Regions from separate parts of the Homo sapiens genome. Here region 2 is linked to region 1. A link means that fine-mapping ties the variant in region 1 to the expression of a gene that starts in the linked region. Tissue or cell type: sigmoid colon. Region 1 holds a variant in brackets; the other region holds the start of a gene. All regions are shown on one strand. Distances are from middle to middle.

Region 1 (7,645 bases):
TGAATATTCTCCTCTTTCTGGTGGCCTAGAATGCACCTACATGAGAGGTTCCCATCTTAGTGGACTTTAACAAAGTTCTGTAACCCAAGGCTAGAATGCTGAATTGTTATGTAAAACATCTTTCTTATCCCCAGGCATGGCAGCATGTCCATCTGCCCTTGAAATTGTCATTAGTCATAATGTGATTTTAGAGTGAGTCAGATGGAAAAGCTTACAGCCCGAGGGGTTGTGCCTTATCTACCAATTTCCTGCTTTGCCACCCTAGGGACACAAAGACATTGTGGAAGGCGCTGGCTGAAAAGCCAGCCTCCAGTGGGAAACTCTTGCAAGCCTTAATAGACAAACTGGAGACTGAGTTAGAAGATGACATCGCCAGGGTTGAGGCAATTTCAGTGAGTTGGACAGCCTGAACCCATCACTTGCCTGAGACTGCGCCATCTTTATGATCTATCCCCACCTGGAGCTTGGTGCTGTCACATTAATGACACCTCCTTCTTCTCTCATACCCTAACTTTACTCCAGTTTATAGTTGTGGCTCTACTTTTGTCTGTGGCTGATCATTTTTAGAAGCAAATTTCTCATCAACCCCCCAAAAAACCTATGTATCTATATTTCTAGATAAGTCTGTAAGATATCCAAAGGACCCTTTTTGTTGAAAAACCCCAATGCTGAAAACATTTTATTTTACATGACTAGTGTCCCCTGGCAGTCACAGGACTAACATGGCAGGCCCTGAGTTGAGAAATTTCCAGACAATAAACCCTCCCTTTTCTGTGTGTTTTTACTGGTGGAGAAAACAAAGTTGAAAATCAGCCCAGAGAGAAGATGGCCTTGGAGAAAATGAGACTGCCTGACCAAGAGGCCCTTTCTCCCCTCAGGTGGCCTGTGCTATGTATGAAGTGATCTCAATGGGCACCTCTGTCACCGGCTTGTATCCAGAGCTGTTCACTCTCCTCCTGAAGCTGGTTAGCTGCACACTGGGCCAGAAGATGCTCACTTGTCCCTGGAGCCATAGGCGGCATGTGATGCAGCAGGGAGAACAGCAGCAGATCCCAGACCCCTGCAGGTAAACGGCCAATCAGGAAGCATCTTCCACAGTGGTCCTAATCCCAGACTCCAGGAGTGGTGCTGCAGAAGTCAGGGTCTGTGCTTTCTGTCATAGCATCCATTGTCCATGAAGAAACAAGGCTCTACAAGGCTCTACTCTCCCTAAGCCGTGACACCATAGTTCTTCTTGAGCCAGTATCCAGTGTAGCTACACAGAATAGTCACTTAAAGAATAAGGGGCTATGCTTTCTTTCCTAGAGGAACTACTATATTATCTTTGGTTTCTATCATTGAGATCTTTCTAGAGAGGCTGGAATCTTGTGATCTTCAAGGCCACCAGGGAAAAAAGAAAAATAAAAATAAATACCATATTTCATAAATTCTGAGACTTCAGCAATTGAAAAAAAGCAATTTTTTGCATACCATTGAGAAAACAGAAAAGAACTCCAAAGTAAGCAGTGAATCAATGCTTTCTTAAACTTTAAAATTTTTATTCTGTACTTATCAAAAGAACTCTTTTAGGATTATGAAGTATGAATTTTCATTTCATATCCCATCATTCTGTTTCCCTGCATTTTGCATAACTTTTCATTCCAATGTAAAATTATAGTGCAACATTTTTAAAGACACTTTAAACACCGTTTAGTCAACACGTATTAGGTTGGTGCAAAAGTAATTGCTGTTTTTACCATTAAAAGTAATAGTTCCAATAATACGTGTAACTTTACTAAAATGATGGTAATATAAAGAGCTATATCTGAACCAGGCAGCACATGTGAATGTACAGACAATAGCAACTACATCACAAGTACTGTCTGGCCAAGAACAATTGTAACACACATCTACTGCAAGATGCATCCTGATTTCAGAGATCGTGTTTTAGAATCAGTGAAATATGGTATTTTTCACTTTTTATTCTTATGGCCTATTTTTTCTTATGGGGGGAGTGTTGACAAGATTTTGTGGCATTACTTACTGGCCCACATCATCTGCATGTCCCCATGGATCCCAAGGCTAAAATGTGAGCATAGGGCTGCCTGTTTTTCCCTTACACAACATCCCCTAGTCCAGGGGTGGGAAAGCATTGTGAGGAGTGGAAAGGCAAACTTGGGAATTTGCAATTCCCTATAAGGGTCAACTTAGTTTTGTAATGCTGACTGTCTCCTTTAGGCTTTCAACTGCTACTTTAAAATGTTTGCAAGCCCAAGCCATGAGAGAAGGCCTTGCAAAGGAATCTGATGAGGGGGACAACTTATGGACTCTACTCAGCAGTCCTAGTACCCACCACATAGGCGTATGTTCACTGGCCAGGTAATGTGCACTTTTTCTAGAACCAGATACAAAGAAGAAAACAAAAACAAACAAACAAACAAAAGTGCAATACAGGCAACTTCACTGAGCATAATTGATTCACTTAGGACTAATAGTCGAAGGAGGACAAACAGGAAAGAAAGAAAAGGGAATGGGAAGAGATGGTAAGATCAGCCCCACACACACCACTCACCTCAAGAAACATGATTCAGGTGAACATCTTTAGACAAATTACACTTATTTTTTGAAAGAAATATTTAATATTCACATACCTAGAATTCTGTTGAACTTTTTTTAATCAGCTTTTTAAAAAAAATTTTATTTTTTTATTTCAGTAGGTTTTTGGGGAACAGGTGGTGTTTGATTACATGAATAAGTTCTTTAGTGATGATTTCTGAGATTTTGGTGCACCCATCACCTGAGGAGTGTACACTGCACCCAATATGTAGGCTTATCCCTCACCTCATTCCTGCCCTTTCCCCCAAACCCCCAAAGTCCAATGTATCATTCTTATGCCTTTGCGTCCTAATAGCTTAGCTCCCACATATGAGACAGAACATACAATGTTTGGTTTTCCATTCCCAAGTTACTTCACATAGAATAATAGTCTCCAATTCCATCCAGGTTGCTGCAAATGCCATTATTTCACTCCTTTTTATGGCTGAGTAGTATTCCATGGTATATATATACCACATTTTCTTTATCCACTCATTGATTAATGGGCATTTGGGCTGGTTTTATATTTTTGCAATTGCAAATTGTGCTGCTGTAAACATG[T/C]GTGTGCAAGTATCTTTTTTGTATAATGATTTCTTTTCCTCTGGGTAGATACCTAGTAGTGGGACTGTTGGATCAACCGGTAGATCTACTTTTAGTTCTTTAAGAAGCTCCACTGTTTTCCATAGTGGTTGTACTAGTTTGCATTCCCACCAAGAGTGAAAAATTATTCTCTTTTCACGGCATCCATGCCAACACCTTTTTTTTTATTATTATTATTTTATTATGGTCATTCTTGCAGGAGTGAGGTGGTATCGCACTGTGGTTTTGATTTCCATTTCCCTGATCATTAGTGATGTTAAGCATTTTTCCATATGTTTGTTGGCCATTTGTATATCTTCTTTTGAGAATTATCTATTCATGTCCTTAGCCTGCTTTTTGATGGGATTGTTTAGACAAACTGCATTTAAATTGGACAATTGGATAGGCCATTTTAAAATTTAAGCCTTGGTGGGCTTTCATCAAGCATCCCTTTTTTCTTTTTTCTTTTTTCTTTTTTTTTTTTTTGGAGACAGAATCTTACTCTTCGCCCAGGCTGGAGTGTGCAGTGGCGCGATCTCGGCTGACTGCAACCTCTGTCTCCTGGGTTCAAACAATTCTCCTGCCTCAGCCTCCTGAATAGCTGGGACTACAGGAGCACACCACCATGCCTGGCTAATTTTTTGTATTTTAGTAGATACGGGGTTTCACCATGTTGCCCAGGCTGGTCTCGAACTCCTGAGCTCAGGCAATCCACCTGCCTCGGCCTCCCAAAGTTCTAGGATTACAGGCATGAGCCACCACCCCCAGCCAAGCATTCCTTTTTAGACAAATTACTTGCCTGATGAACAAACAGACTAAGATTTCCTCCATTGTTTAGTAAAATATGTCTCTGCTAAAATGTGCATTTTCTAGGAGCATGGCAGTGTGGCAACACGGAGTCATACTGGACATCATGGAACAGCTGCTCTCATCTCTTACCTCCTCCTCGGAGAACTACCGGATAACCGGCGCAGCTTTCTTCTCTGAGGCAAGGGAGAACAGCCCTCAGAGCACACTCACTGGGTCCCCATAGGGTATTTCTCTTATGGTCTGGAGCCCAGTGTGCACTGGAACCAGGGAAGAGAGACTTCAAGGGGGGGGGGGGTTTCATAGAGGAGAGACCAGCTACTGCCAGATATATGGTACCTAAGCAGGGGGTGAGAGAGGAAAATAAACCACCTCACCCACCTCCTGCCCTCTAGTTTGCAGAAGGCAGAGAAAGGGGGACAATAAATCTGTGAGGGATCAAACAAAGCATTGTAGCACTGACGCTTCAAATTCCGGCCTGAAGACTATTCCAGCCAATCCAGAGAAGGAAAACTATCAGTCATTCCTGTTTTCCCTGCCCCATTTTCCATTGAGACTAGACATCTGTTATGCAGGTAACCGGGTTTACATCACCATGCAAGCTTGACCTGTGCGCTGCTCATATCTAGAGCTCAGCTTCAGCAAGGCTTGCTGGTTCACCAGAGGGCTTCCTCCTCCGCTGCACAAGCAGTGGGGTCCTCTCTTTAATTGTACTTGTGATGTCTTTGGCACTCTCCTGAAGGAGGGGCCACGCCCTTAACTAAACGGGAGGAGTGTGTTGATTATTTCAGCTCATGAAGGAACCAATCCTTTGGAAGCATGGGAATCTGCGAAATGTGCTGATCTTGATGGATCAAAGTGCCTGGGACTCCAACGCCACTCTGAGGCAGATGGCCATCCGAGGGCTCGGCAACACAGCATCCGGGGCTCCTCACAAGGTAAAAGGCGTTTTAAGGGGAAATGGTTCATTTAAGTAGAGTTTTGAAATAATGATTTAATAACCCACGCCTAGTTGTTGCATACAAATTAATTGGAAATCCAGATACATTGCTGAAGTGGTAGTCCTTCGGTTGAACTACATGTGACCCTGACAAAATTTCAGTCCTCTTGTCTGAGGACTCCTACCCTCTTCCAGATACGCATAGAACAATTTTCAAGATTAAGAGGTCTTATTTCAAAATAGGTGAAGAAACATAAGCAGTTAATGCTAGAATCTATCATCAGAGGCCTGTATCACCTAGCTCGCACTGAAGTCGTCTGTGAAAGCTTGAAGGCTCTAAAAAAAATCCTGGAGCTGCTGACAGACCGAGACGTGAGCTTCTACTTCAAGGAAATAGTGCTGCAAACAAGGACCTTCTTTGAAGATGTAAGTGAGCCTGTTTAGGAACTTCCCTCCCCAGAAGTGAGTGAACAGAAACAGGTTTAGGTAGTGCTCACAGAAGACATTGTCAGTGTCCCACCCATATTCCTTGGCCTGCCCCAGACAGGTCACCTGCAGACAATCTCTATACAAGCTGTTGGCTTCCTGTATCTCTCTGCCTGAGGGTGCTCTATGGCCTGGCAGTCATGATTGATCTAAGCTAGTTGAGCCAGAATTGTTGGGGGAAGAAATGCCCTAGGAAGGACCCTCAAACAATAAGAAACAAGAGTTTGTAGATAAATTTCCCGGTTTCCTCACCCCTCAGAAAGGGTTGATTGGCTGTTACAGAGATCTTAGGATCCACAGAGTTTAAACTATTTACTGTCTGGCCTTTTAGAGAAAACGTTTGCCAGCTTTTGATGTACTCCATAATCGCAATTTCAAAAAAGATCAGTCAGCAGTCCTAGGCAGAGAAGGGTCATTTTCCTCTATGCCTTCCAGGAAGCACATTTTAGTATTTATTTTTTGGTTATTCATTGCCATCAATGTAAAAATCTATTTTTAACCTAAACCTATTATTTTGTAATCTAAACCTGCTTCCTCATGTAGTATTGTCAGAGGAGATGGAAAACTGCTAGTTGCCTTCTCTAGTGCATTCTTCATAAACATTAAGGCTTTATTTGATTACCTATTTACCTTACAGTCTGCAGACTTGAGAAGTCTTCATTTCTTTCATTATTCATCATAAACCTAATTTTTCTGCTCATTAAATATTTTGCAAGCCTGTGACTGAGTTGGAACTCTAAATGAGGCTCAAGAAGTATTGAATAGAATCTAAGGATATATTACCTCTCAAATCCAACCTTTTCCCATTTCTTTGCTCCATTATTTTTTTTAATTTTGCCCTTCCTGATTTTGGCATGCTAACTATATGAACCTCTAGATTTTAGTCTGTAATATATGCCCACAGCATTCTTCAGTTTCGTATTTTTGCAGTTTTTCTTGTCTATGTGCTAGCCTAGACCTGGCCTTTGAAAACATCTTTCTGCTTGTTTCCAACTATTTCCTCCAATTAACCAATATCACTTTTAGGCCAGGCATGGTGGCTCACGCCTGTAATCCCAGCACTTTGGGAGGCTGAGGCAGGTGGATCACCTGAGGTCAGAAGTTTGAGACCAGCCTGGCCAACATGGTGAAACCCCATCTGTAGTAAAAGTACAAAAATTAGCTGGGTGTGGCGGTGCGCGCCTGTAGTCCCAGCTACTAGGGAGACTGAGACAGGATAATCGCTTGAACACGGGAGGCAGAGGTTGCAGTGAGCCGAGATCATGCCACTGCACTCCAGCCTGGGCAACAAGAGTGAAACTCCATCTCAAAAAAAAAAAAAAAAGCAATTTTTAATTATCTTGTCCTCAAAAATGCTTACTGGGGTAAAAATAACAAAGATATTCTTTTTCTTCGTTGTTCAGGGCTGAAGTCACCCCTTCAGAACCCCAGCTGTTAAGTTTCCTGGATTGTTGTTGATCCAATAATAATTCTCTTAGATCTGAGCCTCCAGTAAATCACAAGTCCACTTAACAATTTAGTGGTCAAGATAATGTTGCCCAGTGTCATCAGAGAAGGATAAAATGTGCTAAAGCCTTGCTGATTGTTAGCTCAGACCTTGCTCATCTCTAATAGGTGTCAACTCCATCACGTTTGCATAAAAGTAAAGTTGGACAAAACTTTGACTCTTATTTGTTCTCCAGTAATGCCATTTTTACATAAGTATATTTAACTCTATGATCTATTGCCCCAATATTTTTATGTAGATTAAGCATAGCTTTCTATAATCTCCAAGTTTTCTTCCTTTGTTTCTTTCAATATTTAAATACTTTCTTAGACTTTTCAAAACATGGTGACACTTGAATGAAATGGTAGAACAGAAAATGTGGCTGCTGCCCCATGCTCCATTCCCTTCTTGCTACTATTCCCCACACTGTCACCCTGAGCAATCGCTTTACCCTCTGTGACTCCATGTTCTCAAGTGAACATGAGGACATTGGACTAGACGTTCTCTAATATTTCTCCCAGCACCCAAAATCCTTTTGCCACTTTTTCTTTCTGATTTTTCATCATCTCGATTGGTTGATTGTTCCTGGACCTATCATTAGCTCATTGATTTTGCAAAATTCAAGCTTTTTTAACTAAATGTCTCTCTACCTTTTTGGTACCTTGTTTTTGGTTAGCTTCCTCTTTCTAAAGAGGTATCTTTTAAAAAATGTATCCTGACCTTATTCCTAATAAATCTAAAAAATGTGTTTCTACTTTCATTTTCATTATACA
Region 2 (7,645 bases), 65 kb before region 1:
CATTTTTGCAACCTACTCATCTGATAAAGGGCTAATATCCAGAATCTACAATGAACTCAAACAAGTTTACAAGAAAAAAACAAACAACCCCATCAAAAAATGGGTGAAGGATATGAACAGACGCTTTTCAAAAGAAGACATTTAGGCAGCCAAAAAACACTTGAAAAAATGCTCATCATCACTGGCCATCAGAGAAATGCAAATCAAAACCACAATGAGATACCATCTCACACCAGTTAGAATGGCAATCATTAAAAAGTCAGGAAACAACAGGTGCTGGAGAGGATGTGGAGAAATAGGAACACTTTTACACTGTTGGTGGGACTGTAAACTAGTTTAAGCATTGTGGAAGTTAGTGTGACGATTCCTCAGGGATCTAAAACTAGAATTACCTTTTGACCCAGCCATCCCATAAATGGGTAGATACCCAAAGGATTATAAATCATGCTGCTATAAGGACACATGCACACGTATGTTTATTGCGGCACTATTCACAATAGCAAAGACTTGGAACCGACCCAAATGTCCATCAATGATAGACTGGATTAAGAAAATGTGGCACATATACACCATGGAATACTATGCAGCCATAAAAAATGATGAGTTCATGTCCTTTGTAGGGACATGGATGAAGCTGGAAACCATCATTCTCAGCAAACTATCGCAAGGACAAAAAACCAAACACCGCATGTTCTCACTCATAGGTGGGAATTGAACAATGAGAACACATGGACAAAGGAAGGGGAACATCACACACTGAGGACTGTTGGGGGGTGGGGGGAGTGGGAAAGGATAGCATTAGGAGATATACCTAATGCTAAATGACGAGTTAATGGGTGCAGCACACAAACATGGCACATGTATACATATGTAACAAAACTGCACGTTGTGCACATGTACCCTAGAACTTAAAGTATAATAATAATAAAATTTTTAAAAAAGAAATTAGGCTTATCTCATGAAACTGACAAATCAAACAAAACACAGCCTAATTTCACTTTTAATATATTTTATAAAAATCTAACACGTCATCTGAAGAATAAAAGGATAAATATCAAAGTTTAGATTAATTGTAGTATACATTAAAATCATCTACAATTAAACTATTAAAACCATAAAATTTAAATTTTTATAACGTTTCTGTATTATTTCTATGTATCTATTCTTCTTTAGCTTTATATTTTACCTTTACTGCCTTATTAATATTTTTGTCTGATAACATCATGTGGGAACATAGTAGGCCTGGGATTGGGTAGCTTCATTTGACAAGTTACATTGAAAGGGGATGGCTACCACATATCCAGTGAGACACTCTAATTCCTTAGCAGGCTAGATTTAGGCTCCCTCACAAATATCTAGAAACAGTACTTAATTAGTTAGCACATGCCATCCTATTCACTTTGAGAATTCGTGTTTAGGATCCTCTTAGAGTCTTAGAGAAATCAAATCCATATTGTGTTAGCCTCATGCAATGAGAAGAGGAAGAAATAATGGGAAGATGTAACAAGCAGGCGACTGAAAAATGAAATAAAATGACAGCAAATCAGCTATTTTGAGGATTTGGGGATTTTAAAACTATCTGCAGTATTGGTTTCAATGAGTGAATTTACTTTGTCTGAAAGGATTTTAGCAAAAAGTTGTGTTTTGATTGCAGCGATGAATAAATTAAAAGTCAAAATAAATCAATTATCTCCTAACTTCTCTAATCTCTATGAAATCAAGGAAGTCTTTATATACAGACATACAGAAAAATCATTTGTCACCATTCACAAAAATATTAAGAAAATGGTTGTAACAATTACCTAAATGGCTAGCTTTCTTATTATTGATTCTGCTGTACATTGTTTTTTAAGACTCTAAGAGCACATAATTTCTAACATCATTTTTTCCCTTATAGGGAATCTGTTGTTTTATTTACTACAAGTAGACTTAACATCTTATAGATGTTAAGAGTTTCGGGATGCCTCTAATCACCCCAGTACCTCCCTGACTAACCAAACTTGGCCTATTCTTCAGTGAGTCATGATGCTGGGGAAGAGCTCCTTGCCCAACCACAACAAACATTCTTCAGTTAACTGCTATTTACTGATCCACTAATGAATGTTTGGGCAAGGACCTTGGTCAGTGCTTTTCAAAGTTCAGTGAACCTAAGAATCACCAGGGGCGCACATTAAATATATAGATTGCTGCCCCCTCATTCTAATTTACTGGGTCTGAAGTGGGGCCTGGGAATTCACATTTTAAATAAGGATACCAAGTAAATCCCATGATAAAGTCACCTGGAGACAAAACTCTGAAAGTGATGCTGACTTGGGAAGCGGAAAATGTTGAGGATCTCTTTAATACAGTGCAAAATGTCTATGAGAAGAATGATGAATTCAAAGGTTTAGTTGGAAGCAGTTGACCTTTGAATCTGGAATAAGCTTCACCGATGAAGTTAAGATGGCCAAAAAAGCAGCAGCAGATGAAAATTGTCATGAGCTCCCCTCCTCAGCCCATTCTACATTTAGCCCTATAGACTAGCAGTACTGCCTTCCCTTTCTCTATCATCCTCCATATTCACATAGAGTCTGGACATATATTGAAGATTGTCATCACATAGATTTATAGTTGGGGACCAGATTTCAATTCATGCTAGATAAGTTGAAAACATTATGGAAAATTGATCTAGATAAAAAATAATTTGAAAACAAAAAGAAAGCTGAAGACAGAGAAAAAGCCTGAGCCTGGAGTGAGGCCAAGATCCTGAACATGCCAGGGAGGAATTAATGGAGAGGGAGGTAGAGAGGTCTTCACTTTGCTGCTGTCAGTTGGACATTCCATCCAACTGCCCCTGAAGTGCATTCCAGTCCACTGAGCATGCTCAGTTCATATGACTGATTTTCACTAAGTGTAACAATCAACGAGTTCACCATAAAGCCTTTCCCAACATCAGGACAGTAAAGCAACTACTGAAAACCATTCCTGAATTTGTGATCAATGGACTCAAGTTTAGGGAGAGGAGCACCTTTGGTCTGCAACAATGGTTTGAATCCCAGTCTCTAATTACTTCTTTCCCAAATACTCTGGTCACCAAAGGGACAATATTTGGTGAGATGCAGCCATTTTGTTGGTTAGCAGGAGTTCAGACGCAAGACAATGTCATAGTGGTAGAATACAGTATCAACTTCAACAGCAAGCCCATCTCTGGAAGCTCCCAGACCATTGTGCCAATCAAGTGGAGGAGGCACTTTCATTTAGAGAGGCTTATGTGAACCTTATATGAGAAACTTGCCAACCTGCCTCTTTGATTTTTTAGCCTTACTATTTCTAATACTTAGGTGCTATCTTTTAGAGACCCTGAAACAGCCAAGACATGACACTTAGTACAGAGGAATCCATAGGTAAGCATCATCAGATCCTGAGAAGCCAAGGCTCTTCCCTGTGTTTTGTTTCTGTGGAATTATAAGTATATATGAGGGCTGGGAGTGGCGCGTCATTGTGGGAGGACTGTACACCTCAAAGGATTTATGAAATGGTATGCTAAATACATAATAAAATCATGCTGATTGTGAAGGACCAATAATAGACTGGAAGCCTAAGAGATGGTTGTGCTTTAAAATTTAGAGTCTACCTGAGGAGAAAGTGGCTACATATCAAAGAAAGGCAGTTTGTTATTTAATTTTAAATACTAGAAGAGTCCTTTGGAAGTATTTCTCCCAATTTCCAGGTATGGCTGCCTTTCTACTTTGCCAAAAAGATTGCCCTAAATGAGTATGTTGTTTGGTGTGGAGGTTAATAAGAAATCTTCATCTCCAAAAGTATTTCTCCTACCAACTTGCCATGTAGCTTGAAATTGCTCAATTCCTTTGACTCAATTTTTTTTCCAGTTTTCTAGAGTGCTTTATTCAAAAACATATATTCCTAGAAAATGCAAGTCAAACACATTTAGGTCATTGTCAGAAAACAGGAAGCCTTCATTAGCATGTGACCAAAAGAGGGAGTTGGCAGGCACAGGAGAATAGGTGGAGTTGAAAAGGGTATGGAAAAAGAAGATGGGAGAGGTATTGAGGGGAGGACCAGTGAAAAATAAACAGCTATGTTGCACCCCTGCCTTCTAATGCTTAAGTCAGGAGTGAGAAATTCACCTCATTGACTCTGAGAGCTAAATCCTGCAAGAGAGAATTTACAAGGCAATGCCCACTTGCCTGGAGGGATACATAGGAATCCGGCATCTTTTATCTTCCCTTTCACATTTGATTCAGGTTTCAAAAATAATAATAACTTAGCATCTGCTAGTTTCATTTATGTCATGGATATGAATAAAACAGTTCCTGCCATCAAAGAGCTAGCAGTCAAGGGAGAGAGAGAGAGAGAGGATAAATGAATGAATGAACTTTCTGTGTTGATTACAAAATAATTAACAGGAGGGCATTTCAGCATATATTTCAATTCATATTTTTCTGTACGTTTTAGAGATGTTTGGGGATATTAACCTCACTCTTGGCATGCTGAACAAGGAAGATATTGTTAACAAGGTAGGGAAAACAGAGAAAAATCTTTTTCCCTTTTTCAGTCTTCTTGTTGCAACATTTCGTATATATTTTTCTTTGTCTCAACTTTCTCATTTTTCTCTGGCTTGTTACATGGCATTAGATTTTTCAGTAAATGCAGTTGTAATGAAAGTCATTGTAATGTTTAAGCAATGATATTTGGCATTTCAAGAATCACAGCATCTATGTCTAGAAAATAGCAAAAAAAAAGTTCCTTTTTATAACTTTATACAGGCAGATGTTGAAAGGTGTATGTCAGACTTACAAACATGTGGATGAGACTGTTTCTTTTATAATTTGAGGGTTGTTACAAAAATCCCAAAAGCTCTTCCCTGCTCATCTATAATGCTATTTCACAGCTAGAAGTTTACCTAAGAATTGAAGGCTTTTCACATTTCAACAACCTTTTATAAAATAAAAGAAATAACTGCCCTTCATCGAACACTTATCTGGGAAGTAAAATGCTAGATATTTTCCAAACAACAGTGTATTGTATAATATTCACTCCTCAGAACAATTTTATCAGGTAGTTATTGCTATTTCCATTTGATAACTGAGAAAAAATTAGGCAGAGAGAAGTTACATGACTTGCTCAACTAAGAACAACAGGACTATATCCAAAAGCAAGCCCATCTGACTCCAAAAAAAAATGTTCCTAATCATTATTCAGTGTTGTCTCCTTGTGAAGGGCAGTGCCTATACCTTTATCTCTTAATTCAGTGGTTCTCAACCCTGACCATATATTAGAATCCCTTAGAGAGTTTTGGGAAAATATCAACACCCAGGCCCTACTACCAGGGATTCTGATTGGATCAGTCTGTGAAAAGCTTGGGCATTTTAAGCACCTGGAGGTAATCCAAACATTTAGGTACGGTTGAAAACCATTACATTAATCTCTCAGTAGAAGTCACCTTTCCGAAAGAACACTATTTCTCAAACATTGGGAATCACTTAAGAGAATAACCTCCGGATCCCAGAAACATTGAAGGAGAATTTCCAGTAAAGGGATCAGAGAATATATATTTTTAACAAGCACTTCCTAGTTATTTTATGATGAGTCTAGTTAAAGAATAATAATAGCCAGCATAACCAAGAGGTTAAGGTGCCAGCTAAAATTCAGACTGTTGGTTTCAAATTGTAGCATCAGTACGTAACACTAACTACATTAAGCTCCCTGGGACTCAATTTCCTCATCTATAAAATGAATATATTTGTGGTACCTAAGACAGGGACTTGTGAGCGTTAATAAAATGCTCCAGATAATGAGTCTGGCACAGTTCCAGGAATGTGGTGAGAGCTCCATAAATGGTAGCCTTGCCAAAGAACAAGGCCTGCAGACAGGATAGTAAGCACATGGAGCAAGAAAAGGACTCACAGAGATAGTTAGGCAGGCCCAGAAAATACAGGGAAGAAAGCAAAGAAAAATTATGCATTATTCTCAGACTTCCCAAGGACCAGCCCTGAGGAGTAATGCAAAGGATGCTATTTAACAACTTAAGCATGGGTGGAGTGGCTGGAGGTGCATGTTGAAGCTGTTGGAGATTTCAGTACACCAGTCTCTCTTTCATCATCCAGAGGACACATAGCCACCTAAAAGATTTACAATTCCTCACACAGGGCATCTAGTCAAGCCACACAACTGGAGGCCCTGTCTAAAATGTCCACAACTTTCTGTCTGCAGAGGCATGAATGAAACAAGGGCCTGTAAATGTCCCTTAGGATCCAGTTTCATAGCCTAGCAGCCTCTTGGGGAGTTACAGTGTGTTCCCTAGTACCATATCACTCCCTGATAGTAAGGGCAGCAATTAAGCTGACAGGCATTTCCATTCCCCTGAGTGTCCCACAACAGTGATTTTCAAAAGACATGGAATGGCAGGTAGCCTCTCCTGGTTGTCAATTAGATCTTGCCATAGAAATATAGCCAAGTTAAAATAGTTTTTAGAATTGACTTTGCTCTGTAGCCTTTGACTCCTAAAGATGCATGTTATGTTCAGAAAGCCTCAATTAAAGCCAGGCACGGTGGCTCATGCCTGTAATCCCAGCACTTTGGGAGACCGAGGCAAGTGGATCACCTGAGGTCAGGAGTTCGAGACCAGCGTAGCCAACATGGCAAAAACCCCGTCTCTACTAAAAATACAAAAATTATTCGGGCATGGTGGCACACACCTGTAATCCTGGCTACTCGGGAGGCTGAGGCAGGAGAATCAGTTGAACCCAGGAGGCAGAGGTTGCAGTGAGCTGAGATCATGCCATTGCACTCCAGCCTGGCCAAAAAGAGCAAAACTCCATCTTAAAAAATAGAAAAAAAAAAGAAAGCCTCAATTAAGACATATAATATGAAATCCATTGTGTAGTAAAGATATATTGCTTACTTTAATGGTGTTATTCATTAGGATTTCATTTGATTCCTTTATTTTTGCAAGCCAAATTTCTGTGTATGCCTTTGTATATTCACAGGAAGACATTTACAGTCATCTCACTTCTGTTATTCAGAATACTGACATCTTGGATGATGCAATTGTCCAACGATTGATTTATTATGCTTCTAAGGATATGAGAGACAACAATGTAAGTTTGGTTCATGATGGTGAAAAGGGTCTTTATGTGACCCAACTGCACCCATGTGGACATCAGTAAGCTCTTCTACACTGTTGCCAGGACCACAAATCACTTGTATTTGTTCTTTGTGGTAACTTGGATATCGTTATAATGCCTGATATTTACTCCTTCACAGATGAGGAAACTGAGGCAAAGATAAGAATGATTTTAAAGGTGATTTTATCCAACCTCCTTTTAGATGAGGAAGTTCACCATTAGAGATATGTTTTTTTCAAAGTAACACAGCTGTCTATTGACAACTAGTAACATAACTAGAAACCAATTTTCTTGGCTTCTATATGACTTATTTCTTTATGTACCTACTATCTTAGATTGTCTGATAGACAACATAGCAAAAAAATAATAATTTGTAGAAGTAATTTGAATCCTAGGATGATGTTATTTCTTCCAGAAAGAAGTATTACTTGTTCCTGCCAAGGGCACTAACAATTTATGATTGCTTTCAGGGTTTGAGATTTCTGGGTCTCTTCTATAACTTAGAATTCGATTGTCAT

Alleles and levels. Positions count from the first base shown, and alleles are read on the strand shown. Sizes are in standard deviations (SD) of each study's normalised expression.
For the expression in sigmoid colon of the gene that starts at base 2,866 in region 2, T is the low allele of the variant in region 1 and C is the other (moderate effect, 0.63 SD a copy in GTEx).

The links. PIP is the estimated chance that this variant, and not a neighbour inherited with it, causes the effect.
Region 2: MROH2B starts here. The variant in region 1 is fine-mapped to the expression of MROH2B in sigmoid colon (GTEx, PIP above 0.99).

Annotation. Positions count from the first base shown.
Region 1 is chr5:41,002,027-41,009,671 of GRCh38, reverse strand. MROH2B (maestro heat like repeat family member 2B) reads left to right here. Exons shown (of 42, transcript NM_173489.5): 32 at 266-392; 33 at 879-1,066; 34 at 2,218-2,358; 35 at 4,027-4,141; 36 at 4,752-4,898; 37 at 5,144-5,326. Among named protein-coding and RNA genes, the nearest start is that of MROH2B, 65 kb to the left of the region's middle. RefSeq lists an enhancer at 48-1,247. The variant T/C (reference allele first, on the strand shown) is at 3,136.
Region 2 is chr5:41,066,563-41,074,207 of GRCh38, reverse strand. MROH2B (maestro heat like repeat family member 2B) reads left to right here and starts at 2,866. Exons shown (of 42, transcript NM_173489.5): 1 at 2,866-3,383; 2 at 4,456-4,517; 3 at 6,990-7,100. The coding sequence starts at 3,356. LOC105374739 (a long non-coding RNA gene) reads right to left here and starts at 2,851. Exons shown (of 6, transcript XR_001742650.2): 1 at 2,280-2,851.